Regions from separate parts of the Homo sapiens genome. Here regions 1 and 3 are each linked to region 2. The links come from fine-mapping of genetic effects on gene expression. A gene starts in region 2. Each other region holds a variant in brackets. All regions are shown on one strand. Distances are from middle to middle.

Region 1 (8,000 bases), 260 kb after region 2:
ACATGACTGCACTCCAGCCTAGGTGACAGAGTCTCAGAAAAAAAAAAAATGGTAGTAGATAGTACAGATGAAGTATAAAACTATCTATATTCTAAAAGACATCTGACTAAATTTTTGAGAAGTTTTTTTCCTTTCCTTTCCTTTTCCTCTCCTCTCCCTCTGCTCTCCTTTCCTTTCCTCCTGTCCCATCCCGTTTCGTTCTCGTTGCCCAGGCTGGAGTGCAATGGCATGATCTTGGCTCACTGCAACCTCCACCTCCCAAGTTCAAGCTATTCTCCTGCCTCAGCCTCCCAAGTAGCTGGGATTACGGGCATGTGGCACCACGCCTGGCTAATTTTTTTGTATTTTTAGTAGAGACGGGGTTTCACCATGTTGGCCAGGCTGATCTTGAACTCCTGACCTCAGGTGATCCACCTGCCTTGGCCTCCCAAAGTGCTGGGATTACAAGCGTGAGCCACCGCCCCGGCCTATTCTTTATTTTTATTAGTTACCCTTCTACTAGCAAACTCTCTAAATATGTTTCTGATATATTTCTCATTGAACTGTTTTTTATTGAAGATGGTTTCTAAAGTTGTCTTGCAAATAGAAATTTTGCCCTTATTCTAATGTGTATATATAAGGAGAATGCCATTTCTTTTTTTTATTTTTTTGAGATAGGACTTGGCTCTGTTGCCTGTGCTGGAATACAGTGGCGGAATCTCGGCTTACTGCACCCTCCGCCTCCCCGGTTCAAGTGATTCTCATGCCTCAGCCTCCCGAGTAGCTGGGACTGTGTGCGCATACCACCGCAACTGGCTAATTTTTTTTGTATTTTTTAGTAGAGGCCAGTTTTCACCATGTTGGCCAGGCTGGTCTCGAATGCCTGACCTCAGGTGATCCGCCCGCCTCGGCCTTCCAGACTGTTGGAATTACAGGCGTGAGCCACTGCGCCTGGCCACGTTTCCTTTTCTTTAGGAAAAAAATTGGATGATATGAGTTTCCAAAACCTGTATTAATACACTGAAGTGGTTTTTTTCACGTCATCCTGAAGTGTGGCTCTGTGTGTGTGTGTGTGTGTGTGTGTGTAGCTTTTTGCCTGTGATTAGTTGTCTCTCCATAGTATACCTAAATAGAATTATACTTTTCACCTGCCATATCAAATGACGTTAGCATCACAACTTGCTGTGATTGTGTCCAGAAACATTTTTCTTTCTTAAAATTGTTTCACTTGATCATTAATTTCTTAAATTGTGCTGGAAAGTTAACATTTTAGAGGAAAAAATGGTATATTTACCTGATATAAAATTGATCTTTAATATAACTATGCAGATGTTCTACATGAATACTATGAAGCCACCTCCTTCATCAGATAGCACTGATGAATATTTCTTTTTCTTTGGCTTTTGCTGTTACTGAGTAAATTTATATTCCAGTGTCCTTTGAATGACAAAGTTGGATACTTTACTTTTGCAAAGATCGCGCCACGGCACTCCAGCCTGGGCAGCACGGTGAGACTCTGTCTCAAAAAAAAAAAAAAAAAAGTAATTTGTTTTATGCATATCATTTTTTTCAGGAAGGATAAACACAGGGAACTCAGAGAAGGGGATGACTTTTACAAAAAGCAAATATGTATAATTTGAGACAATCAACTTTCTCATTCTTTAGAACCTAGCTTGCGTTAAAGGGGCCACTCCTTGGCCATGTATGCTTTCCCAGTTTTCCTAATCAAATGCCACTCGCTACTCTTTGAATGCCCTGGGCTTTTTGCTTTTGTTTATTGTTGTTCTTTAAAATATATTTTTTTGGTACACTCCCGTCCCATCTGATTCTGTTGTTACCACTGTTCTTCATTTAAAGCTGTGTCATACTTACTTCTGTATCCCAGAGGCTTCAAACCCAATAACTATTAAATGTGGTGGGATCGTATTGGTGTTTGACATTCATTCCCAGAGCTTTCTAGTGATTTTCCCTTTATAGGTTTGATTGTCTGTTCTTTAGGGCAGACATGCTCCCTGGGCAATGCTCAACCAGAATACAGAGCAATGTTTCCAAATTGATAATTGTTTTCTAATTTAAATTTGTCAGAAATAGACTCTTACTACTATATGTTGGTAGAAATTTTACTCAGTTTTTCAAAGATAGAATTGAAAGATAGAATTTAAAAATCGCAAATGTAAATCACAGTAATAATAAGGAAATTTAACTTCCTAAAATAAAATCCCATCTATAAATTAAACAGAAGATAAAATTAAGCAAGTAAGAATAGTGCCATTTCTGGGGATTTCTGTGTGAATGCCTTTGGCATTTAGAATATACTTATCTAGGTGTTCTTTGAGTTATCTTTTAAAGGCAGAAATTTCTCTGTTGTCAATACTTTTTAAATCTTTTCGCCTGGTTACTTATTTAGCATTTGCCTTCTGAGTATATTGTATCATATGTGTCTTGTGGTCTCTGGACAGGATTAATTTTCCAAGTGTCTGACCACAATTGTACACTCTTTTCTGCTATAAATTTGTTTTCTCTTTTCTCTCCTCCCCTCCTCTCTTCTTTTCTTTTCTTTTTGATGGAGTCTTGCTCTGTCGCCCAGGCTGGAGTGCAGTGGCGGGATCTCAGTTCACTGCAACCTCTGCCTCCTGGGTTCAAGCAATTGTCCTGCCTCAGCCTCCCAAGTAGCTGGCACTACAGGTGCCTGCCACCATGCCTGGCTAATTTTTGTATTTTTAGTTCTGACCTTGTGATTCGCCTGCCTTGATCTCCCAGAATGCTGGGATTACAGGCGTGAGCCACCACACCGGGCCATAAATTTCATATATTTCAACACGTCATATCAAATCATGAGCTTGATTTTTCCCTGCTAATATTGTAGAGTTGATTAAATTGCCTTTTTTTTTTTGTTTGAGATGGAGGCTTGCTCTGTCGCCCAGGCTGGAGTGCAGTGGCGCGACCTTGGCTCACTGCAAGCTCCACCTCCCGGGTTCACGCCATTCTCTTGCCTCAGCCTCCCAAATTGAGTTTTATGGATAGAAAAACATTGCAGTGTCTGTATATTTATTTCATTAAATGTATTT[A/G]TAATAATATTCTAAATATTAATTTAAATGTATTTATAGAATAAATTATTTAAATGTATTTATAATACATTTTACTTCTTTGTAATGTCATTTACTGTGTCTTTTAAATTTGACTGTAAACACTGCTTGTTCTCCTGTTTACTTTTTCTCAAGGTAATACACAAACATTTTTACTTGAAAAGAGTTGAGATAATGGCCCAATGTGAGGAGTGGATTGCGGATATCCAGCAGTACAGCAGTGATAAGCGGGTAGGCAGGACTATGTCTCACCATGCAGCAGCTCTCAAGGTGAGTAAGCCTCTCTAACAGGAGCCTTGTTGCTTTAAGAGTTGTGTAATTATTGACAGAACCATGCCTACCAGAAGATAATGGGAGGGAGGGAATTAAAGAAACATAATATGTATTTTCAGTTCAGAGGAATAAATTGTTACTCAGAAGTCTATAGAAAAGATACATTTTTTTTTGGTAGTAGATTGACAGTTCCTAAAATAAAAAGTGGGTCCAAGGACTGAGACAACAGAGTTTTGTAAAGTTCCTTGAAGATAATGATGACAAGATGTGCTCCATGAATGCCTTTTCCTTTTTCTTTTTTTCTTTTGAGACTGGATTTCATTCTGTTGTCCCAGCCTAGAGTGCAGTGGTGGCATCATGACTCTCTGTAACCTTGAACTCCTGGGCTCAAGCAGTCCTCCCACCTCAGCTTCCCATGTAGCTAGGACTACAGGTAGCTGCCACAGTGCCCAGTTAAATTTTTTTATTTTCAATTTTGTAGAGATGGGGTCTCACCCTGTTTCCTAGGCTAGGCTCAAGTGATCCTCCCACCTCAGCCACCCAAATCACTGGAATTATAGGCATGAGCAACCGTGCCAGACTTGAAGGACTTCTTTTATTCCCTTAGTCTTTCCCTAGGCCTCCTGCCTTCCAGAATTTTATTACTTGGAGTGATGAGGGAGATTTGAGTTGCAGATTCTCCCTCAGCTGATGGTGGCAGTGGCTGTGTTAGGGGAGAAAGCAGTTGTTTTCAGTTTGGACGTTCATAGAATGGAAATGTGAAATGTGATTGGTTTGGAAGATTTTCTGTCTACCCACGGAGATCTTTCTTTGTAACAGCCTTCCTTTTTTCCTGCATCTGAATGTCTTTACTCATTTCATCCTCCACCAATATCCTCCCTTTTCTATCTTCAGGTTTTTCCATTTCTACTGGCTTGTTATCTTCTAACTTTAAAGCTGTCTTCACTTCAAACAACTAGTTGATGATAAGGATTTGTTAGTTTTTTAGGTGTGATTTTTAAAAAGATCCCTATCTTTTCAGGACATGTACAGAAATATTTGTGAATGACAAAGTGTATGATGTCTGGGAATTACTTCAAAATAAAATGACAAGGGGAAAGTGTGGGAATATAGATGAAAGAAGATGGGCCATGAGTTGATAATGGTTGAAGCTGTGTGATAGATTCATGGGACTTCATTGTACTCTTCTGCCCACTTCTGCATATGTTTGAATTTTTTCACTATAAAAATGTTTTGAAAAAGAGAGAAAAACACTTGCAGAAAATTTCCCTAAGCTAGTTCTATTTTGCCCCTATTATTATGAAACAGATTGTCTTCTTTCACCGTCAGACTATAGCAGTTGACACTTCTTGCCTCCATTTTTTAACCTTTGTCTCACTAATCAACCTTATGCAGTTTGACTTCTATTTTACCAAAGTTACCATCTCTCCAGTTCTCAACGCCAGTGACCCTGGCTCACTTCTCCATTCACTTCATCTGCTCTCCCTCCTCCAGGCCTTTACACATGGTTTCCATTTTCCTCTACTTTTCAGCTCTTCTGCTTGCTCACCTCCATTCATATTTCAGCTTAAATTTCACTTCATGGAACCCTGCCTTGACTGGTTTGTTTGTTTGTTTGTTTGTTTGTTTCTGAGACACTGTCTCTCTCTGCCACTCAGGCATGATCTTGGCTCACTGCATCTTCCGCCTCCCTTGTTCAAGTGATTTATCTGCCTCAGCCTCCTGAGTAGCTGGGATTACAGGCATCTGCCACCAGACCTGGCTAACTTTTGTATTTTTATTTTCATTATTTATTTTATTTATTTATTTATTTTAGATGTAATCTTGCTCTGTTGCTCAGCCTGGAGTGCAGTGGCTTGATCTCAGCTCACTGCAGCCTTAACCTCCTGGGTTCAAGCTATTCTCCTGCCTCAGCCTCCTGAGTATCTGGGATTACAGTCACCTGCCATCATGCCCAGCTAATTTTTGCATTTTTAGTAGAGACGGGGTTTCACCATGTTGGCCAGGCTGGTCTCGAACTCCAGGCTGGTCTTGAACTCCTGACCTCAAGTGAGCCACCGCGCCCCGCCTGACTGATAGACTATTAGATCATTTCAGTATAAGCATTTCTAACCCTCTGCGTCTACCTGTTAAAACACTCATAACATTTGTCTAATGTTTGTCTTTTGTACTATACTTTTCATCTGTAGACTATCTTGGCTTTTCTGCTTATACTCTTCTTAATTCTTTCAGTGTGTTTTCCTTTTTCTTTTTTCCTGAGCAATTGTTTACCTGAAGGCTTACTTTTTGGCCTTCAGAACTATTTTTTTTCTGTCTTTCTGTTTTTCCTTCATTGTGTCTGTAACCCTGACTTTGGCCATTTACTCTCTAAAAGTGACACTTCAAACTGTTGTCAGCTGTTAGCTTTCTCTTGAGTTGTATTACTGACATTTTTTACATAGATACCCTGTCATCATCTCCTTAAAGGAGATTTTCCTCAAATCAAGTTTTCTAGCTTTCTATTTACTTAATTTTACTTGATTTTAAACCATTTTTCTCTGTCTTAGAATCTTCAAGTATTATGTATCTCATCCTTCATCCAGCACCCCTGGTCAGTACTAGGTCCTGTCAGTATTACTTCATGAGGGGACTGTCCTCTCCCCAACCCATGATTTCTGTTGAGTTCCCACAGCTTTGTCTGTTTGTCCAGCTTCCTTGTACCAGGTTCTCCCCCTTTCAGTTCCTTCTTTAGTGCATTACCAGGCTGATCTTCCCCAAATATGTATTTAGATATGTTTTTCACTTACACAAAACTGGCTCAAGTCCAGCTTCTTTTCATTCAGTGTCTTGCTTATATCCGCATTCCTTTATTTCTTCTGTGTCACTGTCACCTGGAATTTTCCATCTCTGAATTAATCCAAATTTATATCATTTTAACTGTACATTTGCTGTTGAGTGCTACACAAGAAAAATACACAATTGGCCAGGCGCAGTGACTCACGCCTATAATCCCAACACTTTGGGAGGCCAAGGCGGGCAGATCACTTGTGGTCAGGAGTTCAAGACCAGCCTGGCCAACATGGTGAAACCCCAACTCTATTAAAAGAAAATACAAAAATTAGTCAAGTGTGGTGGCTCATGCCTGTAGTCCCAGCTGCTGGGGAGGCTGAGGCAGGAAAATCGCCTGAACCCGGGAGGTGGAGGTTGCAGTGAGCTGAGATTGCGCCATTGCTCTCCAGCCTGGGCAACGAGTGTAAAATTCTGTCTTAAAAAATAAATGAAAAGTATGTAGTTGTTTAGCTTGACTCCACAATAAAATCATAGTATCCCTGTATTAGGCTGTTCTTTCTTTGCTATAAAGAAATCCTTGAGACTGGGTAATTTATAACAAAAAGACATTCAATGGGCCCATGGTTCTGTAGGCTGTACAGGAAGCATGGAACTGGCATTTACTCTGCTTCTGTAGAGGCCTCAAGGACCTTATACTCATGGTGGAAGATGAAGCGGAATCACGAAGGCGTAGGGGTGTGGGAGGTGCCACACTTTACAACAACCCGATCTCGTGATAATTCACTCACTATCTCAGGACAGCACCAATCCATGAGGAAACTGTCCCCATGATCCCCATTTCTCTCACCTCCAACACAGGGATTACATTTCAACATGAGATTTGGGCAGGGACAAATATCCAAACTAGATCAATCCCCAACCTTAACTCAGTTCTCATGATTGCCAGATTTTTCTTTCTCCTTCCCTGGTTAGTGATTTCACCTGTTGTCCACAGTGGAAGGAAAATCAAGGCTAGGGAAATTCTCACTTACCGGCATGTAAATGTGCTTTGAAACTTTGCAAATAGCTGCAAGGTAGAGTTGTTTTTTCCTATTTATGTGTCTTATAATTTCAGCCAGAATTTTAGACTCCATAAGCTTAAAGATTTTATCCTCATTCTACTCATTGCCTTTATGTTGTTGGTATTTAACACAGTGCCTCATACATAAAAATTGTTCTGTAAATAAATGTTGTTTAATTTTCAAAGTCAGCTGTTGACACTATTTAGTTTTTATTTATTTTATTTTATTTTATTTTTGAGATGGAGTCTCGCTCTGCTGCCAGGCTGGAGTGCAGTGCTGTGCGATCTCAGCTCACTGGAACCTCTGCCTCCCTGGTTCAAGCGATGCTCCTGCCTCAGCCTCCCAAGTACCTGGGACTACAGGCACACACCACCACACCCAGCTAATTTTTGTATTTTTTGTAGAGACGGGGTTTCACCATGTTGGCCAGGATGGTCTCGATCTTTTGACCTCGTGATCTGCCCGCCATGGCCTCCGAAAGTGCTGGGATTACAGGCGTGAGGCATCAGACCCGGCCGACACAATTTTAAAAGCCTTTGGTGTGATTATTTAAGGTCATTTCTCTCTCACCAGAAAATTATGAACCAAATCTTTGCATGTGTTAGACAACCAGCCACTCCCAATTAACATGCCTATATCCTTACGTAAACTGCAATATAGAGCAAAGCAAAGTTTATTTAATCTCTATAGATCTTCTTTTTAACTCAATTTTGTAAAAAGTTCTAATGATAGGCTGGGTGCAGTTCTTTGTTCTTCTATGATCTTTTTAACTTAATTTTTTAAAATTCTATGATCTTCTTTTTAACTTAATTTTTTAAAAAGTTCTAATGAT
Region 2 (10,948 bases):
CTTCAATCAGACCTGCTTTCTGAGTCCATGTTTCTGATTTCAGCAAATTCCTCTTTGCGGAATGAGTGTCAATATGAAGGAATTTCTACTTCCCTTAAGGTGCTCACCACCTCTGCCCAAAATGGTTTGGCTGTGGTCCCTTAAAAGGCCATCACTTCAAAATAGACTAGTCATGAAAATCAGTACATTTCTCAATGTTGAGGGTATTTGCTGTCAAAACCACGTGCAACAAGATATCAACAACACAGCTGATGGTGAATTTCACCCAGTCTTCCCCAATTCTATGTTTACAATCATTTATTTTTTATTTTTTTGAGGCAGGGTCTCACTCTGCCACCAGGCTGAAGTGCAGTAGCATGACCACATTTCCCTGAAGCCTCAACCTCCCAGGCTCAAACGATCCTCCCACCTCAGCCTCCTGAGTAGCTGGGACTACAGGCACGCACCACCATGTCCAAATAATTTTTTATTGTAGAGACAGGGTCTCGCTATGTTGCCCAAGCTGGTCTTAAACTCCTGACCTCAAGTGATCCTCCTGCCTTGGCCTCCCAAAGTGCTGGGGTTACAGGTGTGAGTCACCACGCCTGGCCTTTACAAACACTCTATTTTTTTAATTTTTTAAAATTTTATTTATCTATTTATATTTGAGACAGAGTCTGGCTCTATCACCCAGGCTGGAGTGCAGTGGCATGATCTCTGCTCACTGCAAGCTCCGCCTTCTGGGTTCATGCCATTCTCCTGCCTCAGCCTCCTGAGTAGCTGGGAGTATAGGTGCCCGCCACCACGCCTGGCTAATTTTTTGTATTTTTTAGTAGAGACGGGGTTTCACCGTGTTAGCCAGGATGGTCTCCATCTCCTGACCTCGTGATCCGCCCACCCTGGCCTCCCAAAGTGCTGGGATTACAGGCGTGAGCCACCACGCCCGGCCACGAATATGTATTTCTGTTTGAAAACTTGCTGAGACCTTAAAGACTACAGTTAAGAGATTCAGGACCCAGGCTCAGATTCCTTGAATTAAAGTGTTTGTAGGCCCAGGCTGGTCTCAAACTCCTGAGTTCAGGTGATCCACCCGCCTTGGCTTCCCAAAGTGCTGGGATTACAGGTGTGAGCCACAGCACCTGGCTAAGACCCTGTTTCAAAAAATAAAAATAAAAATAGGCTGGGTGCGGTGGCTTACGCCTGTAATCACAGCACTATGGGAGGCCGAGGCGGGTGGATCACCTGAGGTCTGGAGTTCGAGACCAGCCTGGCCAATGTGGTGAAACCCCGTCTCTACTAAAATTACAAAAATCAGGCCAGGCATGGTGGCTCACGCCTATAATCCCAGCACTTTGGGAGGCTGAGGCAGGCGGATCATGAGGTCAAGAGATGGAGACCATCCTGGCCAACATGGTGAAACTCCGTCTCTACTAAAAAAAAATACAAAACTTAGCTGGGTGTGGTGGTGCGCCTGTAGTCCCAGCTACTAGGGAGGCTGAGGCAGGAGAATCGCTTGAACCTGGACGGTGGAGGTTGCAGTGAGCTGAGATCGTGCCGCTGCACTCCAGCCTGGCAACAGAGCGAGACTCCGTCTCGAAACAAAACAAAACAAAACGAAACAAAACAAAACAAAACAATCAGCAGGCATGGTGGCACGAGCTTATAATCCCTGCTACTCTGGAGGCTGAGGCAGGAGAATCACCTGAACCCAGAAGGGGAGCTGAGATTATGCCAGTGCACTCCAGCCTGGGCAACAAAGTGACACTCCATCTCAAAATAAATAAATAAATAAATAAATAAATAAATAAATAAATAAATAAATAGAAAAATTAATTTAAAAAATAGAAACAAATTAAAATGAGGGGCTTGAATTGCATTGGAGACTTATTCAGGGGAATCTTTTTTTTTTTTTTGATGGAGTCTCACTCTATTGCCCAGGCTGGAGTGCAATGGCACTGTCTTGGTTCACTGCAGCATTCGCCTCCCAGGTTCAAGTGATTCTCCTGCCTCAGCCTCCTGAGTAGCTGGGATTACAGGCATGCACCACCATGCCTGGCTAATTTTTGTATTTTAATAGAGACAGGTTTTCACGATGGTCAGGATGGTCTGGAACTCCTCACCTCCACTCGCTTTGGCCTCTTAAAGTGCTGGGATTACAGGCGTGAGCCACCGAGCCCGGCTATTCGGGGGAATCTTTCAGATTAAAGAAAAAGATTGGCTAGATGAGATACTGAGAGATTAAAACTTTGAAATGGCAGTTTTTATGGTTTCTACTTATATCCTATTATTATTATTATTATTATTATTATTATTATTTTATATCTATTTTTTGAGACAGAGTCTTGCTCTGTTTCCCAGGCTGAAGTGCAGTGGGGCGATCTCGGCTCATTGCAACCTCTGCCTCCTGGGTTCAAACGATTCTCATGCCTTACTCTCCCAAGTAGCTGGGATTACAGGTGCCCAGCTAATTTTTGTGTTTTTAGTAGAGACGGGGTGTCTACTAAAAATACAAACCACTGAACCCAGCTAAGTTTTGTATTTTTAGTAGAGACGGGGTTTTGCCGTGTTGGCCAGGCTGGTCTTGAACTCCTGACCTCAGGTGATTCACCTGCCTCAGCCTCCCAGAGTGCTTGAATTATGGGTGTGAGCCACCGTGTCTGGCCTCTACTTATATCCTAAAGATTTTTTTTTTTTTTTTGAGACATAGTTTTGCTCTGTCGCCCAGGCTGGAGTGCAGTGGCGCAATCTCGGGTCACTGCAAGCTCCACCTCCCAGGTTCACACCATTCTCCTGCCTCAGCCTCCTGAGTAGCTGGGACTACAGGCACCTGCCACCACGCCCGGCTAATTTTTTTGTATTTTTAGTAGAGATGGGGTTTCACCGTGTTAGCCAGGATGGTCTCAAGCTGCTGACCTCGTGATCTGCCTGTCTCGGCCTCCCAAAGTGCTGGGATTACAGGCATGAGCCTCCGTGCCCGACTATATCCTAAAGATTTTATTTATTTTTATTTTGGAGACAGAGTCTCCTCTGTCACCCAGGCTTGCGTGCAGTGGGGCGATCATGGCTCACTGCAACCTCTGCCTCCTGGGTTCAAGCGATTCTCCCGCCTCAGCCTCCCGAGGAGCTGGGATTACAGGCATGTGCCACCACACCCAGCTAATTTTTGTATTTTTAGTAGAGATGGGATTTCACCATATTGGTCAGGCTGGTCTTGAACTCCTGACCTCAGGTGATCCGCCTGCCTTAGTCTCCCAAAGTTCTGGGATTACAGACGTGAGCCACCACGCCCGGCCTATCCTAAAGATTTTAAAAACTGTTTTAAAACGACACCCCACTTATATTTAGATTTGATTATTTACAGTCTTTCACCTCAAGGCCCTGAAGTTTTGAACAAGAGGGTTAAGTTGGAAGTACAAGTTCTCGAATCAAACTGCTGGAGCTCAAAATCCAGGTTATTTCTACCCCAGCCCCAGAAACCGTGAGACGATGGAGAAGCCATTTCACCTCTCTGTGTTTCAATATTTATTTATTTATTTGAGCTGGAGTCCTGCTCTGTCCCCCAGGCTGGAGTGCAGTGGCGCGATCTTGGCTCCTTGCAACCTCCACCTCCCGGGTTCAAGCGTTTCTTCTGCCTCAGTCTCCCCAGTAGCTGGGATTACAGGTGCCTGCCACCATTTCTGGCTAATTATTTTGTATTTTCTTCTTTTTTTTTTCAGACAGAGTCTTGCTCTGTGGCCAGGCTGGAGTGCAGTGGTACAATGTCGGCTCACTGCAACCTCTGCCTCAAGTTCAAGCTATTCTCCTGCCTCAGCCTCCAGAGTAGCTGGGACTACAGGCACGTGCCACCATGCCCAGCTAATTTTTTGTAGTTTTGGTAGAGACAGGGTTTCACCATGTTGGCCAGGATAGTCTTGATCTCTTGACCTCGTGATCCGCCTGCCTTGGCCTCCCAAAGTGCTGAGATTACAGGCGTGAGCCACCGTGCCCGGCCTATTTTGTATTTTCAGTAGAGACAGAGTTTCACCATTTTGACCAGGCTGGTCTCAAACATCTGACCTTAAGTAATCCGCCCGCCTCAACCTCCCAAAGTGCTGTGATTACAGGCGTGAGCCACCGTGTCTGGCCCTGTTTTTCAATTTTTACCATTTACAAGTACTTTCAGAAGTACTTAGAACAAACCTAAATGACTAGGGCAAGAAATTTTATCATCTCCGTTTGACACTTGGTGAAACAGTCTCAAAATGTATGACTAGCCCAAGTTCATAGAGGTGATCAATGATGCTACAGTTATGAAAATCAGATATTCATCCAGACTTTACTATGACAAAGATTCTTTGGCCAAACTTTAGTCAGACTTCTGAATCTTCTGCTAGGTCCATCCGTGCACTTCCTTGTAAAGTCTAGTTTTAGCAGAAAACTGAGCTAAGTCAGTTTAGCAAGAACCCCTCTTCCTCCATATCTGATCAGGCTCCTCATCCTCCACCATCTCCCAGGTGATGTCTGATCACTGTGGCCTGTCTTCAGCAAGAATCCTGTTAGATTGATTTGGCCAGAGTTTCACTTACCCCTGAGGTTTCCTCTTAGTAATTTTCTATCTACTGACCCCCTACATTGTTCCTTGGTGAATCAGATTCCTGAACCATTGCTCAAGACAAATGTCTGCCAAAGCTGGTAAGAACAGATGTGGATTCTTAAGGTATCAGTATACTCTGGCTGGGTTTGGTGGCTTGCACCTGTAATTCCAGCTACTTAGGAGGCTGAGGCAGGAGGATCGCTTGAGCCCAGGAGTTTGAGGCTGCAGTGAGCTATGATCATGCCACTGACTCTGGCCTAGGTGACACGGTAAGACGCTGTCTCTTAAAATAAGGAAAAAAAACGCCGGGCGCGGTGGCTCACGCCTGTAATCCCAGCACTTTGGGAGGCCGAGGCGGGTGGATCACGAGATCAGGAGATCGAGACCATCCTGGCTAACACAGTGAAACCCCATTTCTACTAAAAATACAAAAAATTAGCCGGGCGTAGTGGCTGGTGCCTATAATCCCAGCTACTCGGGAGGCTGAGGCAGGAGAATAGCGTGAACCCGGGAGGCGGAGCCTGCAGTGATCCGCGATCGCGCCACTGCACTCCAGCCTGGGCGACTGAGCGGGACTTCGTCTCAAAAAAAAAAGGAAAGAAAAGTATATTCTCTGAAACTGTGTTACAGTCCCAGGCTTCTTTTGAAAGGTACCTTCTGGGCTGGATGTTCTTTCTGGCTCTCTGTGAAGCCTCTGTATTCTCTCTATTGGATCTTGCTTCTCCCATGGGAAATTCTGTCACCTGAAACCCTTCTTCTCTGAAACCAGAAATCCCTACTGATTATAACCTTTGCCAACTTTGTCCACCACTGCCAGATCCTTTCCCTTCTCACTCCAGCCCCACAGTCACTTGCACTTTAGGCTCCCTACCCTCCACTGGGGGCTCTGAAGGGACTGAGAGGACCCTCCAAATCAATCACTTGAGGCTGAAAAGAGAGAAAAAAATGAGACTGTTTTGAAACAGGGCAAATAAAAAAAAAAGTAAAAAGAATTTTCCACAAATATTGGTAAAAAGCTTTAGCCCTTACTAAGTAGGTAAACTCAACTTGTCCCATTTTCTTTTTTTTTTTTTTTTCTGAGGCAGATTGTCGCTCTGTCGCCCAGGCTGGAGTGCAGTGGCACGATCTCTGCTCACTGCAACCTCCGCCTTCAGGGTTCAAGTGATTCTCCTGCCTCTGCCTCCCTAGTAGCTGGGACTACAGGTGCCCGCCACCAGGCCCGGCTCATTTTTTTCTATTTTTAGTAGAGATGGGCTTTCACTATGTTGGCCAGGCTAGTCAAAGTGCTAGGATTACAGGTATGAGTCACCGCACCCGGCCAAGTATTCCTATTTTTATGGCAATATAGTTATTTGCATAATTTCTATAAAAATGTGTTCTCCTGTAACAAGACATAATTGGAGGCACTGGTTGTATTAACCAGGTTTTGACTGGAATGTCATATTTTCAAACATGACCAGATGGCATTAAGGAGCTATGGTTGACTTTATGGAGCCAATAAAGTCTTCGTTTGAAAAACTGGCCTGATTGTTCCCAGACTTACAGGTGAGTGGCCTGAGTGGCCGGGCGCGGGGGCTCACACCTGTAATCCCAGCACTTTGGGAGGCCGAGGCAGGTGGATCACGAGATCAGGAGTTCAATACCAACCTGGCCAAGATGGTGAAACCCCATCTCTACTAAAAATACAAAAAAAAAAAAAAAAAAAAATTAGCCAGGCGTGGTGGCAGGTGCCTGTAATCCCAGCTATTCAGGAGGCTGAGGCCGAGAATTGCTTGAATCCAAGAGGCAGAAGTTGTAGTGAGCTGAGATCACGCCACTGCACTCCAGCCTGGGCGACGGAGTGAGACTCCGTCTCAATAAACAAACAAAAACAAACAAAAAAGCCAAAAAAAAAAAAAAAAAAGAACCACAGATGAGTAAGGAATGTCACTCTCTGGCAGGCCCAGGAACTTCAGTGTATTTTAGGGACCCCCAAGAAGAGAGGAATACAGTCAAATCTCTAAGTGTTTCAGATGTAGCCTGATGGCTAATAGTTTAAGATGTAGTTCAGGTAATCCATGAAGATTTCCTGAAGGAAGTTCGCATGAATGTGAGAGGGCAATTAACTTTTATAATTTTTATTGAGCACGTAGTATATACTTGTCAGATGCTCTTCTACACATTTTACAAATGATTCTTAATCCTCACAACAGATCTTTGATTAGGTTTTTAAGGAAAACTAGTTCTTTCCAAAATAACCTAATGATCACAAAACATATAGAACATACAACTCTGCATCTTGACTATGGTGCGTAGGTCTACATGTGATAAAATGACATTGAACTATACACACATCATACAACTATCAAATCCCTCCTTTTGAGATTGTACTAGAATTATGTAATATGCAACCATTGGGGGAAACTGGGTAAAGAGTAAATTGGATCTCTCTGTACTATCTTTGAGTAGTGTTTAGGTATTTTATAAAAATAATGTCCTACAGTTTGGGTTTGTCAAATGGTTTTCTCATAGTTAGATAGGGGTTATGGCTTTTGGAGAGAAAGACCACAGAGGTCTGTAGTATATTTTCAACTGTAATCTATTTCAAAATAAAAAGTTTTAAAAAAATTCTCCAAGGGGGGATGATTAGTAAATTGATTAGTCCTTTCTAGACCTCCAACACACCCCACCACACACTCACACAGACCCACACTCCTATTAATTCCGGTAACTCGGGTTGTTTGGAATGTGGATAGAGAAACTAAGCTTAACTATGCGCTTCCAGCACCTCGTATCTGGTACTTCTGTTCAACAGAAAGCCTTGGGAATGGGGAGGGCAGGCGTGGTAAAAGGTACAGGTTTGGGAAGGTCGCTCGGTTCCTTCCAATCCAAACGAGAGGCTTCTGATTGTTTATTCTCACACCAGAGCCGTGACCGAGACCCAGAGGTCCGCTTCCGGCCACGGCCGAACAGCTGCACCGTGCGTACCGGGAACGGTCAAGGCGCAGCTGGAACCGCTGCAAAAGGCCTCCGGGCGTACCGGACAGGTCGCAAGGGCGGGGGTCCCCACCTAGCGGAAATGCACGGAGGCCAACCCCTCCCCCTGCCCCCGCGAGGAGCGGGGCGGACTCGGCAGCCGCCACTCCCCAGGCTCACAGGAAGAAACTGGGACGCTGCGGACGCGGAACTGGCCAGACCCGCGGCGCGTGGCACGCGCGAGCCCTCCCGCGCATGCTCCACCCGCCGGCCTCCAGCCCGCGCCCCGGGCCCCGCCTCCCTCCCTGCTTCTCCCCCTCTCCCGTCAGCCTCCCTCCGAGTTTGGCCCCTCCGGCCGGGCGATCGACGTTCCGCGTGCGTGCGGGCGCCTGACTTCACTTCCGGCTAACGCGCTCGGCTTGCCCCCTGGCCCCGGATGGTGACTGGTGGTGGTGCTGCACCTCCCGGGACTGTCACTGAGCCGCTTCCCAGTGTGATTGTGCTGAGCGCAGGCCGGAAGATGGCGGCTGCGGCTGCGGCGGCCTCGGGCCCCGGCTGCTCCTCGGCGGCGGGGGCGGGGGCGGCCGGGGTCTCAGAGTGGCTGGTGCTGCGGGACGGCTGCATGCACTGCGACGCCGACGGGCTGCACAGCCTGTCCTACCACCCTGCGCTCAACGCCATCCTGGCCGTCACTAGCCGCGGGACCATCAAAGTCATCGACGGCACCTCGGGGGCCACACTGCAGGCCTCCGCGCTCAGTGGTGAGTCTTCCGCACGCCGGGCGGGCGCGAAGCCGGGGAAAGAAGCCGTCCAGCCCCGGGGCTCGGCCTCGCGACTCGGGGAAGCGAGATGGCGAGAGGGCAGGGCTGGGGGTTCGGGCCCAGCCGTGAAGGGAGGCCCGGAAGCTGATGGAGGGGGACCTTAGGACTTGGCTTTTTCAGCGGCTGCAGTTGGGAGGAAAGACCGGCGAGTCAGGGAGTGGTGGGAGGGGAGTTGCCTTTCGGGCCTGGAGCGTCCGGTCTGGCTTGGTCCTCCGCGAGAGGTGAGGAGACCTTGGAGCTTGGCACCGGAGGAAGCGAGGCCCGGGTAGGCCCTGGAGAGGCTGTCGGTCCTGCGTCCGGTTAGATGAGAGCGAAAGGCTGGAAGGGTTGACCCCGGGCGGAGAGGCTGGTGGCCGGAGGCGAGGGGCGGGGAGCGTCTGAGCCGGCAACCAAGCCCTCCCTTGTGGGAGAGGAGCCGGCAGTCTGCTGTTCTCAGGTCCCGCAGTGCGGGGGACAGACCGCGGGCTGTGCGCCCAGCGTGGGGGTGGGGGTGGGGTGGGGGTGGGGTGGGTCGTGGTGGGGGTGGGGAGGGAAGTAGGCGGGCCAGCTGCCTGAACTGCTTGGTCGACGACTGTAGGACTCTGCGGACGCCGAAGACGACTAGACCTGGTCCCCTTGCTCGGGGCTTCCAACTTCTACGCCCCAGTGACGAGAAAGTCAGGACCTGTGGTGTATGAAATAGATTCCTTTGGGTTTGTAACTTCAGGCTGTCTCTACTTGTTTTCCCACAGCGAGCCGAAAATTAGGATTTGAAGGTGTGTCTGAGTCTCACCATTGGAGGAGAGCACTTCTGGGTGGCGTAAACCTTGGTCCAGGGACGGGACTTTCAGATGCGTGAGGTGTATGCTCAGTGGACGGACTGGAGTGGTTTTGGAATGGCCCTGGCTGAGTTAGATTTGGCGGAGATGACATTTCATTTGTGGTTAAATGATGGGTGGCTTAATTTGGATGTTGTAGGTTTAGATTGAAAAGTTAGTGTATGAGTGAATCGGACTCCTGCATAGAGATGTAATGTATACAACTGTCTGCGTTTAGCCAAGTGGAAGTAGTTATGTGGTCAACCAATTCACTTGTATTTTAACGTAGACGAACAAGGAAAAGTTTACTATGTGAGTAATAAGGCATTTGTAAGAGTAAATGGCAATTTAGGGATGCAAACGTGAAATTAGACATGTTAATTATTGTTGATGTGAGAGTTGTGAAAGAATTGGATTATGTATAGTTTCAGGATATAAACTTGGAACATATCTAAGAGAAAGTTTTGGGAGGTAGGTTTGTAATTTTTTCTTTTCTTGGCTTAGGTAAATGATGGGGTGGCCCAGATGTAGCAGTGAACAGTTACTGCAACTTGGACATAATGGCTTCTCACTGTGTGTAAGAGGGAGATGCTCATTGGTAATTGGATGTCTTTCTTTTTAAAAGTCATTTAAAAGTATTTCAAGTATGAAAAGGTATGAAGAGTAATTACAGTGAACACCATGCATCCCCAACTCAGGTTAAGAAATAAAACTTTACAAATAGGATTAAAATCTCAGCTGAATCTCTCCTGGACTGCATTTCTCCAATCCTCCCTCTTCATAAACGTTATCTTTAATTTGATTTTATCCTTTTCATATATGTCTACACTTTCTAGTATATGTTTCTATCTTGAGGATGTAGTATTTTTGTGATTTTTAACTTGGAATAAGTGGTATATGTACTAGGATTTCTAAAGAAAGTCATTAACAAAAGTATTCAAGTGTTTTGGATAGAAAGAGGAATTTTATGGTGTGCTTTTTATGTCTGGAGGCCATGTTTGAGAATAATAATGTGTGTCAGGATTTGTTGGTTGGGGAAATTGGACATATATTTATGTGCCTGTACATGGAAGGAAAGACAATATTCACTTTAGTGGTAGATTACTAAAGAGGAGGGTTTTAGATGTATAACATGAAGGTGTAGGTAGATAAGTAAAATGTAGCATTGATTTGGGATAACAGGTTTTGTTGGGGCATCTGTTGATTAGAAGAGTTCGGGATTGGATACAATTGCAGGTCCCCATGCATGAAGATTGAGTATGTGAATTAAAATATGTAGAAGGGTTTATAGTGAACGGAATGAAGGATTACAGAAAAAATTTGGAAGTTAACAATGGATGCATTCTGAAACATTTTCATATATGAGAAGTGAAATTTATTATTATTTGTAAAATTTATTCGTATTTGTAGAGATGGGGTTTTGCTGTGTTGCCCAGGCTGGTCTTGAACTTCCGGCCTCAAATGATCCTCCCACCTCAGCCTCCCAAAGTGCTGGTATTACAGGCATGAGCTGTCCCACCTGGCCAGAAGTTTGTTATTAATAATAATTATCAGAGGTTGTATAGGGTCCTATTTGCCCCAGTTCAGATGATTGAGGAGGGAATGCTGCATTTTATGTTTTACTTAGAATCTGCAGGTATTTAGTAAGTTTGCTTTTAATGATTAATAGAGGGTGACAGCCCTATAAATAGAGTAGAGAGAAGATGCCAGTAGCGATCATGGTCCTAACATAATCCCTCTTTCCCGTTTATGGGCAATGGGCCACTTTCTTTTCTACCACAGAGGAAAGACATCTGTGTCTGAGGGGATAAAGACTAGGTGAT
Region 3 (11,024 bases), 530 kb after region 2:
ACATACTGGAAATTTTCTATGAGTAGATTTTACATGCTCTTACCACAGACACAAAGAAGGATAACTGTGAGATGACAGATACATTAATTGACTTGACTGTAGTAATCACTTCATATATCACTTCAAAACATTATGTTACATATTTATAACATAAATATATTCAATCAAATTGAAATAAAACTGGTGTCATGTCACTGTTTACACAGTACTCATTCTGCTAAAGGAGACTCATTTGCAGCTAATACTTAATGTTTCAGGCATGCACCAGAAAATTGGGAGTGGAAAATGAATGAAATTATTTTAGAACAGTTATTGCATCTATGTGAAAAATTAAGCTTCGCAGAATAATATAAAAACACACCTCATGCAGCTGTGTGTGTTATAATAATCTTTGGGCATGATCTACTTAAGGTAACTACTGACTTTTGAAGTAAATTCTGATGCTTCTTCAGAAAATTCGCGTTTTCTGGTTTTCAGGTGACCAGTGTTATCATTATGACATCCCAGCAGTGGATGCTAGATATCAACAAATATTTTTTGCAAGTTACACATTCATCTACAACCTAATATTTTAATTTTTCACTAAAAATGTGCTTTGACCTTTTCAAGCTGATTGATTGCTGCCAAGGGGTTTATTGCAAAAGAAATGTATGTTACCAAACAATGCAATAAATAAAGGTTGTAGATAAATTATAAAGTAAGTGACAAAACCACTGTACACAAGAACATTCAAACTACGGTTTCTGTGCTCTGTGATGGGCTACTCAGCCTCCCTTTCCTGCACATATTTCACTTCACCTAAACTATACTTTCGCACATTTCCCACTGACCCTGCTGACATGTGGCCAGGCAGCTTCATGGACCTCCCAGGCTACAGCAGGCACTAGTGAAAGGTGGCTGGCAGCAGGGTCAGTACATCTCCCAACGCCACTGAGTCCCTGGAAACTTGTAACTGGACACACTGTAATTTGTCCAGCTGTCTTTCAGAGACCGTGTTAATTGCACCTTATCAGGGAATGGTTGAGAAAAGAGAGAAGGGTATTATAGCTGGTCTTCCTTAGATTTTTATCAGGAGTTACAGTGAGAACTCAGTTTATTGCACAGGTCTCATCACTATTGTTCAAGACTGCTGGCAACTGAGAATGCCAAGGAGAGGGCTACTAAACCCATCCCAGCTTGTCGAATTCCACTGTTTTAATGTTTTTCTAACAATGAAGTGCCCGATAGACGTCAACTGCCTGGGATTGTCTTGAGAAAACCTGGATGTACAGTCACCCCAATTGTGATCCATTGCTCTGCTTATCCTACAACTTCCTGATGAAACATCATCTTGCACTGATTTTACACACAACCTCTATGTACTAAAAATGACCTTTCATTTAAATGTAAAGGAAAGGGTGAGGCTGCAGTTAAAAATGAGACAATGTGAAGCTAAAAGACAGATGGCAACTCAGTGGGCGCGTTCAGATATCCCAGCTAACCTCTCCTGGAAGCCAAATCCCAGGGACAATTTCTGGTCATTTTCTTGCTGGAGCTATTTTCAGTTACAGCAGGCTGAATTCTCCAGGGGAAGAGGAAAACTGGGTAATTTGTCTTACTTTTCCTTCCTAAGTCCAGGGCCTACACAAGTTTGGGCCTACAGCACTGAAATCCCCTTTGAACTGTGCCCCGAGTGAAGTGTCAGGAAACCGCTGCTTTTTTCTGGTGGGGGAAAGGGTGTTGTAGGTCCAAAGTTGTATTGGAGACCAGCTGTATACAAGTCGTGTAAACTTTATTGTCTGAGGACTTCATCACCTGTATAAAGGCCCTCACAGTACGGACTGCCAACACATCTGGGTCAGAACAGCTGGGAACAATTTTTAGTTGGAAAAATAACTTACGTGGAAAAGGAGCATAAACTTTCATCATATATTGGCTGGTTGTAAACTAAGGCCATGGCAAGAAAAAATGCGGATGGCTTGTTTTTCTATTTGGTTAGAGTCAGCTATTTCTGGGGCACATACGGCACACAGTTCTTAGGTGACAGGACCCTGTCATAAAATGAACTGGTCACCTTATTAGCTTTTCTGAGTCCTTCACTAGTGGATTTTGGAAAACAGATGCTAAATGTTTAACAAAATCCACATACAGTTTATTAAGGCTTTTCCACAGTTACCCAATCTACACAATATGCCAGTAGGAAAAAGCATTTCAAAGTAAACAAGGATGAATTAACACAGATTAAAATTGTATATCTTAATATCAAATAATGCCATGTGGACTTAGGAGACCAGATGACTGACTGGAGATGGCCAGACAGGAGAAGATAGCAGAGAGGGTCCTGTCCAGAGGCAGAGGAAAACCATATTGTAAATTTGGAATCACTGACTGTTTTAATCATCAGATAGCTTGCTCTTTTCCTGGTGGAGAAAGCAAAAAGCATGAGGCAGCCTCAATCCACAGAGTGTCTGAGAAATAGAACTACCCATGGTACTTGGAAACTTGACCTTGTCAACTCCGAAAGTGCTGTTTGCCCAAAAGCCATATAAATGGTTAGTTTTTTTAAAACTTCACTTGACCTACTATTCAACTATTCTTTAGATATTTTAATGTTTCTAATCTAAAGAATTTTTTATTGTGGTAAAATATACATAACATTTACCATTTTTGCCACTTTTAACTGTACAACTCACTGGCATTAAGCACTTTCATGGTATTGTTTAACCATCACCATTATCTATTTCCATAACTCGATTTCTGATTTTTCGAGCTTCTCCAAGATACAATATGTATGCCCAAAGAGAGAAAGATGCACGATTTTGCTGGGATCAATAAGCAATTGTTGGTTTGCATTCTTCTGGCTAGGCATGTAGACTATTACAGAGACCAGCTCTTGTTAGGAATGCCTGTATCTGTCAACATATTGTACTTTACCCTCTTTTGAACTTTGCTTTTATTCTAGGATGATTGTAAACCAGAGAAAAGCAACAGAAATCTATAAATGCCCTAAAACATTTCAACAGGACTATATGACTGGCATGGGAGCTGTGGGGACTTTATTATGTTCATATTTGGAAAAAGTCGTTTAAGCCCTGCAATGATTAGATGTGACTGTGTGGGTTAATTATGTAGGAGAAGAGATAGTTTCGTTTTAAATTTCTGCAATTCAAACTGTGTATAAATATCATTTAAAATGAAGATCCAAATCATCCTGGAGAAAAACTCACTGGCCATCAGAGAAATGCAAATCAAAACAAAAATGAGATACCATCTCACACCAGTTAGAATGGCAATCATTAAAAAGTCAGGAAACAACAGGTGCTAGAGAGGAAGTGGAGAAATAGGAACACTTTTACACAGTTGTGGGAGTGTAAACTAGTTCAACCATTGTGGAAGACAGTGTGGCGATTCCTCAAGGATCTAGAACTAGAAATACCATTTGACCCAACCATCCCATTACTGGGTATATACCCAAAGGATTATAAATCATGCTGCTATAAAGACACATGCACACGTATGTTAATTGCGGCACTATTCACAATAGCAAAGACTTGGAACCAACCCAAATGTCCGTCAATGATAGACTGGATTAAGAAAATGTGGCACATATACACCATGGAATACTATGCAGCCATAAAAAAGGATGAGCTCATGTCCTTTGTAGGGACACGGATGAAGCCGGAAACCATCATTCTGAGCAAACTATCGCAAGGACAGGAAATCAAACACCGCATGTTCTCACTCAAAGGTGGGAATTGAACAATGAGAACACTTGGACACAGGATGGGGAACATCACACACCAGGGCCTGTCATGGGGTGGGGGAGGGGGGAGGGGTAGCATTAGGAGAAATGCCTAATGTAAATGACAAGTTTATGGGTGCAGCACACCAACATGGCACATGTATACATATGTAACAAACCTGCACGTTGTGCCCATGTACCCTAGAACTTAAAGTATAAAAAAAAATGTGGTAAAGCTTTAGGCTGTTCCAGTTACCATTGCAAACATGAAAGAACTCATAGTGGAGAAAAACTACAAATGTAAGCAATATGGGAAAATATTTAATTTTCCCAGTTTTCCTCAAAGATATGAAAGCAATCAAACTGGAGAAAGAAAACCTATAACTGTAAGAAACATGATTTGAAAAAGTGAAAGGACTCACACTGAAGAAAAGCCTTACGGTATAAGAAATGTGGTCAGGCATTTAGTTCTTTTGTTTGTTTGATTTTGTTTTTTTGAAACGGAGTCTCGCTCTCTCACCCAGGCTGGAGTACAGTGGCACAATCTCAGCTCACTGCAACCCCTGCTTCCCGGGTTCAAGCAATTCTCCTGTCTCAGCCTCCCAAGTAGCTGGGACTACAGGCACATATCACCATGCCTGGATAATTTTTATATTTTTATTAGAGATGGAGTTTCACCACATTGGTCAGGCTGGTCTCAAACTCCTGACCTCAGATAATCTACCCGTCTCAGCCTCCCAAAGTGCTGGGATTACAGGCATGAGCCACCACGCCTGGCCCATTTAGTTCTTTTAGTTGCATTTGCTGACTTAAAATATCTCATTCTGGAGAGAAGCTCTGTGAATGTATGAGATGTGGGAATGCCTTTGCTTTTCCCATATCCTTTCATAGACGCGTGATCATGCACACAAGATGGACCCTATAAACAGGAGAATCACACCTGACTGGATCCCGAGTAGTGTGGAAAATACAGAAAAGTTCTCAATTTTAACAATTACTTTCAAAGTCATGTGAAAACTCGTACTGGAAGGAAATATTGTAAATAATATTGAAAGCCTGTTGCAAATTCATTATTGTATAATGCTTGAAAAAAATTTACAACATGAAAGAAATGTTATATGAATTATATATATATATTGTGTTTATCAGTGGCTCATTATTAAAGAAGGTCTCTGGACTATAGATTTCCACTGTTTTTGCGATAAAAGATTGAGGTGAAAATTCTGTAGGTACCTTTTGAGTGATAATTGTTTAATTAATCTATGATTAATAGGCCTTTGAAAAATGAATCTTTGTTAATTGTCAAAATTTTTCTTACTTTATGGGGCAGGTTTTGGACAGCCTCACCCATTGTATATATTCCAACTTTTTTTTTTTTTTTTTGAGACGGAGTCTTGCTCTGTCACCCAAGCTGGAGGGCAGTGGTGCAATTTCAGCTCACTGCAACCTCCACCTCCCAGGTTCAAGTGATCCTCCTGCCTCAGCCTCCGAAGTAGCTGGGACTACAGACATGCACCACCATGCCCGGCCAATTTTTGTGTATATATATACTTTTTTTTTTTTTTTTTTAGGAGAGACGAGGTTTCGCCATGATGGCCAGGCTGGTCTCAGACTACTGACCTCAGTGAACCACCCGCCTTGGCCTCCCAAAGTGCTGGGATTATAGGCGTGAGCCAGTGTGCCCGGCCTATATTCCAACTTTTTATTATTATGGAAAAAACTTATCTTTTTTGTTATAAAAAAAGGTTTTTTTTTTAATAAAGAGTTGATGTCAGTTTGTAAAATAGTAAAAAATCAAAATAAAAATGAAGATCATTGTAAAATGAAATGTCAGAATATGCGTGCATTGAACGAAATCAACAAAACACAGACCTGAGTAACTTTAGAATTTTAATCTCCATGAAGCTCAAGATATTCAGATCTAACAACTTTGGTGCTTACAGAACATTTATATCTTCTAACTGTCCCATGTGAATATCCCACATAGACTCTCACCAGCCATGACCCAACTCCAGGTAGCAATGAAGGCTTGTTGAAGTCCCATTTGGAGCATTTATGGTCTATTCCTGGCCCCTACTCTTCTATTCTGAAATCATGGTTGCAAAAGGCTCAGAATTTAAAGGCTTAATTATAAATGTCTCTTAAAGAGAAAAATGGAAAGGGGACTAGTTTAATGGAACAATTCATTTTATGAGTCAAATAGTGATATCCATCATTAATTACATGTGATGCAAATATGGCCAAATGTTAGCACTTGTTAAATCATTATGGCTACTATATGGGTATTGTTTTTATTATTTTCTGCGCTTTCTGGACCTACCATTCCAAAAGTGAAAAAATGTAATTTATAGAATTGACAAAGCAGAGAACATTTTCCTCCTGGGGTAAGCAAGGAAAATTTCAACATTATATTATTTTTGGAATTGACTGGACTTCCTACTCCTAAGCAATCTTACCTGCACATCTTTTGAAATAGACTTAATTGCTGCCTAGAGCTCATAGAAGGATCTCACAGCACTGCTCCAGGGCACTGAAGCTTACAGTGAAAGCACATTTTCAGCAAGTACTGAAGATTGTCTCCAC[G/A]TTGGCTGGTTTGAAACTGTGGTGAGTGAATTCAGAAAATAAATAGTGTTGATTCTTTAGAGCTTTGAGGCTTTGAAGAAAATAATAACCCTTAGTAATTAACATGCCTGTTTGTTTTTAGATCTTTTGAATGTAATCCAGGAAAGGAATGGAAAGGAAAGAAGTGCTCAGAAAGCTCCCAGAAGCATTTTGGCACTCACCAAAGCAGCCGGAAGATGAATAACACAGTGGGGATAGATGGCTAAGTGGGTCCTATTTATGTGTTATTCATCGACACTAGAAAACGTGCTTTAATTCAAAGCATTGTTTTCTCTTCAAGTGTCTCCAGTCAGCATCACGTAGCTTTACTAAATGCTTTTGGTAATGCTAGAGTTATTTCAGCGTACCAAGTGTCTTTGAGTAGTCCCTTAAGGAAATAAAGCTAAGAAAAGAAGAGGGCAGACAGAGGGCATTCGACCACAAAGAGTGAGAATTTCATTGGCTTGTAGAAGAATCCTTCTTGGAAATGGAATAGTTTATAGCAGAGATTCCCAGGCACACATGTTCTTAAGAACAAAGGGGCCTTTGGAATGCTGTATCAGTGAGGATGCTTTTAGTTGCAAGTAACTGCAGATCCAACTCCAGACTGGTTAAGCCAAGAGGAGATTTATTATCTTGCGTAACAAATGCTTAAGTAGCCGTGCTTCACCCAAGGCACACTGGGCTTCTGGTTCCACTTCTCTGTGGCTTCTGGATTTGTCCTCTTCTCTTTGTGGGCTTCATCCTGCAGCAGCTCTGAGCATCACATCCACTCACAACAGAGTCTTGTGGTCTGTTTGGCCCCGCCTTGCCTGGACATGTGTATGTTCATTAGGGAGTACTGATTCTTCTCAATGAGGAGGTGCTGGAACCAGCTGCCAGTGAGGACAGCAGAGGTTGAAAAGACTGAGAGGTACTAGAAAAGTAAGAAAGGAATGTATAATTGTGAATAGGTTAACCCCAGCTCTTGAGGAGGACGTGCCTACCTTCAGTCACCTTTTTCCGACATCTGGGATAAAACAAACCAGCAAATCAAGTGAGAGCAATACCGCACTCCACAGTTTACTGCTGGCATAACCCCTTAAAAGAAGAAACAAAATCTTAAGTGATCGTAAATGAAAGAGGTACTCTAAGCAGAGACACATGTTTTCCAAGTTAAGGCAAGAGCAATAGCATTATTGCCTTATATTTGTTTTTGTTTGGTTGGTTGGTTTTATTTTTTCCTTGACACAAGTTCTCGCTCTGTTGCCCAGGCTGGAGTGCAGTGGAACCATCTCGGGTCACTGCAGCCTTGACTTCCTGGGCTCAAGCAATCCTCCTGCCTCAGCCTCCCGAATAGCTGGGATCACAGTGGGGTCTTGCCATGTTGCCCAGGCTGATCTTGAACTCCTGGCCTCAAGCAATCCTCCAGACTCTCCAAGTGCTGGGATTATAGGTGTGGGCCACTGTGCCCAGCCTTTTTATTTTTATTTTTTAAGATACGGGGTTTCATTCTGTTGCCCAGACTGGAGTGGAGTAGCACAATTACAGCTCACAGCAGTCTCCAACTCTTGGCCTCATGGGATCCTCCCACTTCAGCCTCCTCAGTAGCCAGTATTACAGGCGCATGCCATCATGCCCTACCTTTATATTTGTTAATATAAGCATTATGACAGCAGGATTTTTTTTTTCTTATTCACTACTGGATCTGCAGTGATTAGACCAATGAATAACACACTGTATATTCTCAATAAATATCTGTCAAATGAATGAGTCATGGTGTGGGCAGTTTAATAGTTTAAAAAGACCCAGAAAGAGACAGAGAGGGATCTGGGTTACAGTGCCAACTATATCATTTACTAGCTGTAGAATCTTTTTTGTTGTTGTTTGTTTGTTTGTTTGTTTTGAGACAGGGTCTCACTCTTGTCGCCCAGGCTGGAGTGCAGTGGTGTGATCTCAGCTCATTGCAACCTCGACCTCCCAGACTCAGGTGATTCTTCCACCTCAGCCTCCCAGGTAGCTGGGACTACAGGCATGCACCACCACGCTTGGCTAATTTTCTGTATTATTATTATTTTTTTAGAGATGGGGTTTTGCCACATTGCCCAGGCTGATCTTGGACTCCTTGGCTAAAGTGATCAACCTGCCTCAGCCTCCCAAATTGTTGCGATTTACAGGCATGAGCCACCAAGCCCAGCCTGTAGAATCCTTTCTGTGCCTCAATTTCCTCTTCTGTAAAATGGGGATAATAGAAACCTGCTTCATCGGGTTGTTGTGAGAATTAAATGAATCAATACATGTAAAGTGCTTAGAACAGTGCCAAGCCCATAGTAAGCCCTCAGGAATTGTTGACTGTTCATTATCACTGCTACCACTTACTAAGTTTTTGACTTCTATAAGCCTGAGTTTCCTCACTTGTAAAATGGGAATAATAAAAGGTACCTCATTTTGAGGATGAAATGAGACATTGTTTATTCTTTCCTCACAACATCAGGCACGCGATTAGGAACAACTTGGCCAAAGGTCACTATAATTCCTTATCTATCTCAGTGCTTTTTATTTACAAACTTATTTTTATTCCCATAATATATTGATTCCCACAAAAACTTAATGAGAGAACAGGTCAACTATATGCCCCTTTTACAGGTGGAGAAACTAACACATGGAGCAGCTAAAAGCCTGTTAAGACTCACTTTATAGACAGATAGTAGAGCCAGAAGTCAACACAGCAGCCACCCGATGCTTCTCATTGCAGATCTTCCACATTCTAACACAATTTTTAAGCAGAGACTTCATAGCTGGAGAGTGACTTTATTGAGCAAACGTACAATATTGGCTCAGAAATGGAGGACTTATAAAAACTGTTTCTAGGTGGGATAGTGTCTGGAATTTGTGGGTTCTTGGTCTCACTGACTTCAAGAATAAAGCTGCGGACCCTCGTGGTGAGTGTTACAGTTCTTAAAGATAGTGTATCCGGAGTATGTTCCTTCTGATGTTCAGACGTGTTCGGAGTTTCTTCCTTCTGGTGGGTTCGTGGTCTCACTGGCTTCAGGAGTGAAGCTGCAGACCTTTGCGGTGAGTGTTACAGCTCCTAAGGCGGCGCGTCTGGAGTTGCTCGTTCCTCCTGTCCGGAGTTGTTCGTTCCTCCCGGTGGGTTCGTGGTCTCGGTGGCCTCAAGAGTGAAGCTGCAGACCTTCACGGTGAGTGTCACATCTCATAAAGACAGTGTGGACCCAAAGAGTGAGCAGCAGCAAGATTTATTGCAAAGAGCGAAAGAACAAAGCTTCCACGTTGTGGAAGGGGACCCAAGCAGGTTGCCACTGCTAGCTCGGGCAGCCTGCTTTTATTCCCTTATCTGACCCCACCCACATCCTGCTGATTGGCCCATTTTACAGAGAGCCGATTAGTCCGTTTTGACAGGGTGCTGATTGGTGTGTTTACAATCCCTGAGGTAGACACAGAGTGCTGATGGGTGTATTTACAATCCTCTAGCTAGAGGTAAAAGTTCTCTAAGTCCCCACTAGATTAGCTAGACACAGAGCACTGATTGGTGCATTTACAAACCTTGAGATAGACACAGGGTGCTGATTGGTGCGTTTACAAACCTTGAGCTAGACACAGAGTGCTGATTGGTGCCTTTACAATCCTTTAGCTAGACATAAAAGTTCTCCAAGTCCCCACCCCACCCAGGAGCCCAGCTGGCTTCCCCTAGTGGATGCTGCGCCGGGGCAATGGGTGGAGCTGCCTGCCAGTCCCACACAGTGCACCCGCACTCCTCAGTCCTTGGGCGGTTGATGGGACCAGGCGCGGTGGAGCACGGGGCGGCGCCTGTCGGGGAGGCTCGGGCCATGCAGGAACCCACTGCAGGGGGGCTTGGGCATGGCGGGCTGCAGGTCCCGAGCCCTGCCCCGCAGGAAGGCGTCTGAGGCCCAGCAAGAATTTGAGCGTGGCGCGGGCCGGCCAGCAGTGCTGGGGGACCTGGCGCACCCTCCGCAGCTGCTGGCCCGGGTGCTAAGCTCCTCACTGCCTGGGGCCAGCGGCACCGGCCGGCTGCTTCAAGTGCGGGCCCACTGAGCCCGCGCCCATCCAGAACTCGCACTGGCCAGTGAGTGCTGCACGCAGCCCTGGTTCCCGCCTGTGCCTCTCCCTCTACCCCTCTCTGCAAGCAGAGGGAGCCGGCTCCAGCCTCGGCCAGCCCAGAGAGGGTCTCCCACAGTGCAGCAGCAGGCTGAAGGGCTCCTCAAGCATGGCCAGAGTGGATGCCGAGGCCGAGGAGGTGCTGAGAGTGAGTGAGGCCTGCTAGCACGTTGTCACCTCTCAGGATGATGTAGGGGAAGGAGGGAGGAAGTGACCAGGACAGGAAATAACATTTCACAAGAAGTGCTCTTAAGGGAGGAAGGTTAGAATGATCCATGTGGTATTGGATTAGAGTTAGAGACATCAGAATGAACTCACGAATTTAGCTTAATATAGCTACAGATGGTTACAAATAGATATTTGCAGATATGTATCGATTCATGGATTAGTATGTATAGATACATACATTTTATTGCTCTGTCAGCTAAAAGGGCCTAGAAACCACAACACCCCAATAGTAATGAGCACCCCTAGCACCCAGATCTTGGTTTCTAATACCATTCTCTAGTAAAAGAAACCAGGAATCACTGGAGAAATGGCTGATTCTAGGGCTGCACTAATAACATACAAAAGGAAACTATAGTGC

Direction of the effects. Positions count from the first base shown, and alleles are read on the strand shown. Sizes are in standard deviations (SD) of each study's normalised expression. Not every link is listed here.
As copies of G replace A in region 1, the expression in fibroblasts of the gene that starts at base 7,805 in region 2 goes down (small effect, 0.17 SD a copy in GTEx).

What was found. PIP is the estimated chance that this variant, and not a neighbour inherited with it, causes the effect.
Region 1: its variant is fine-mapped to the expression of BIRC6 in fibroblasts (GTEx, PIP 0.97).
Region 3: its variant is fine-mapped to the expression of BIRC6 in monocytes (TOPMed, PIP 0.99).

Annotation. Positions count from the first base shown.
Region 1 is chr2:32,608,248-32,616,247 of GRCh38, forward strand. It overlaps BIRC6 (baculoviral IAP repeat containing 6), which reads left to right. Exons shown (of 74, transcript NM_016252.4): 73 at 3,201-3,335. Among named protein-coding and RNA genes, the nearest start is that of TTC27, 16 kb to the right of the region's middle. The variant A/G (reference allele first, on the strand shown) is at 3,048.
Region 2 is chr2:32,349,219-32,360,166 of GRCh38, forward strand. BIRC6 (baculoviral IAP repeat containing 6) reads left to right here and starts at 7,805. Exons shown (of 74, transcript NM_016252.4): 1 at 7,805-8,268. The coding sequence starts at 7,944. RefSeq lists enhancers at 7,476-7,988, 8,503-9,015 and silencers at 7,492-7,861, 8,022-8,251.
Region 3 is chr2:32,876,502-32,887,525 of GRCh38, forward strand. It overlaps LOC105374453 (a long non-coding RNA gene), which reads right to left. Exons shown (of 3, transcript XR_939938.2): 3 at 9,487-9,514. Among named protein-coding and RNA genes, the nearest start is that of LINC00486, 57 kb to the left of the region's middle. RefSeq lists a silencer at 9,584-9,784. The variant G/A (reference allele first, on the strand shown) is at 6,305.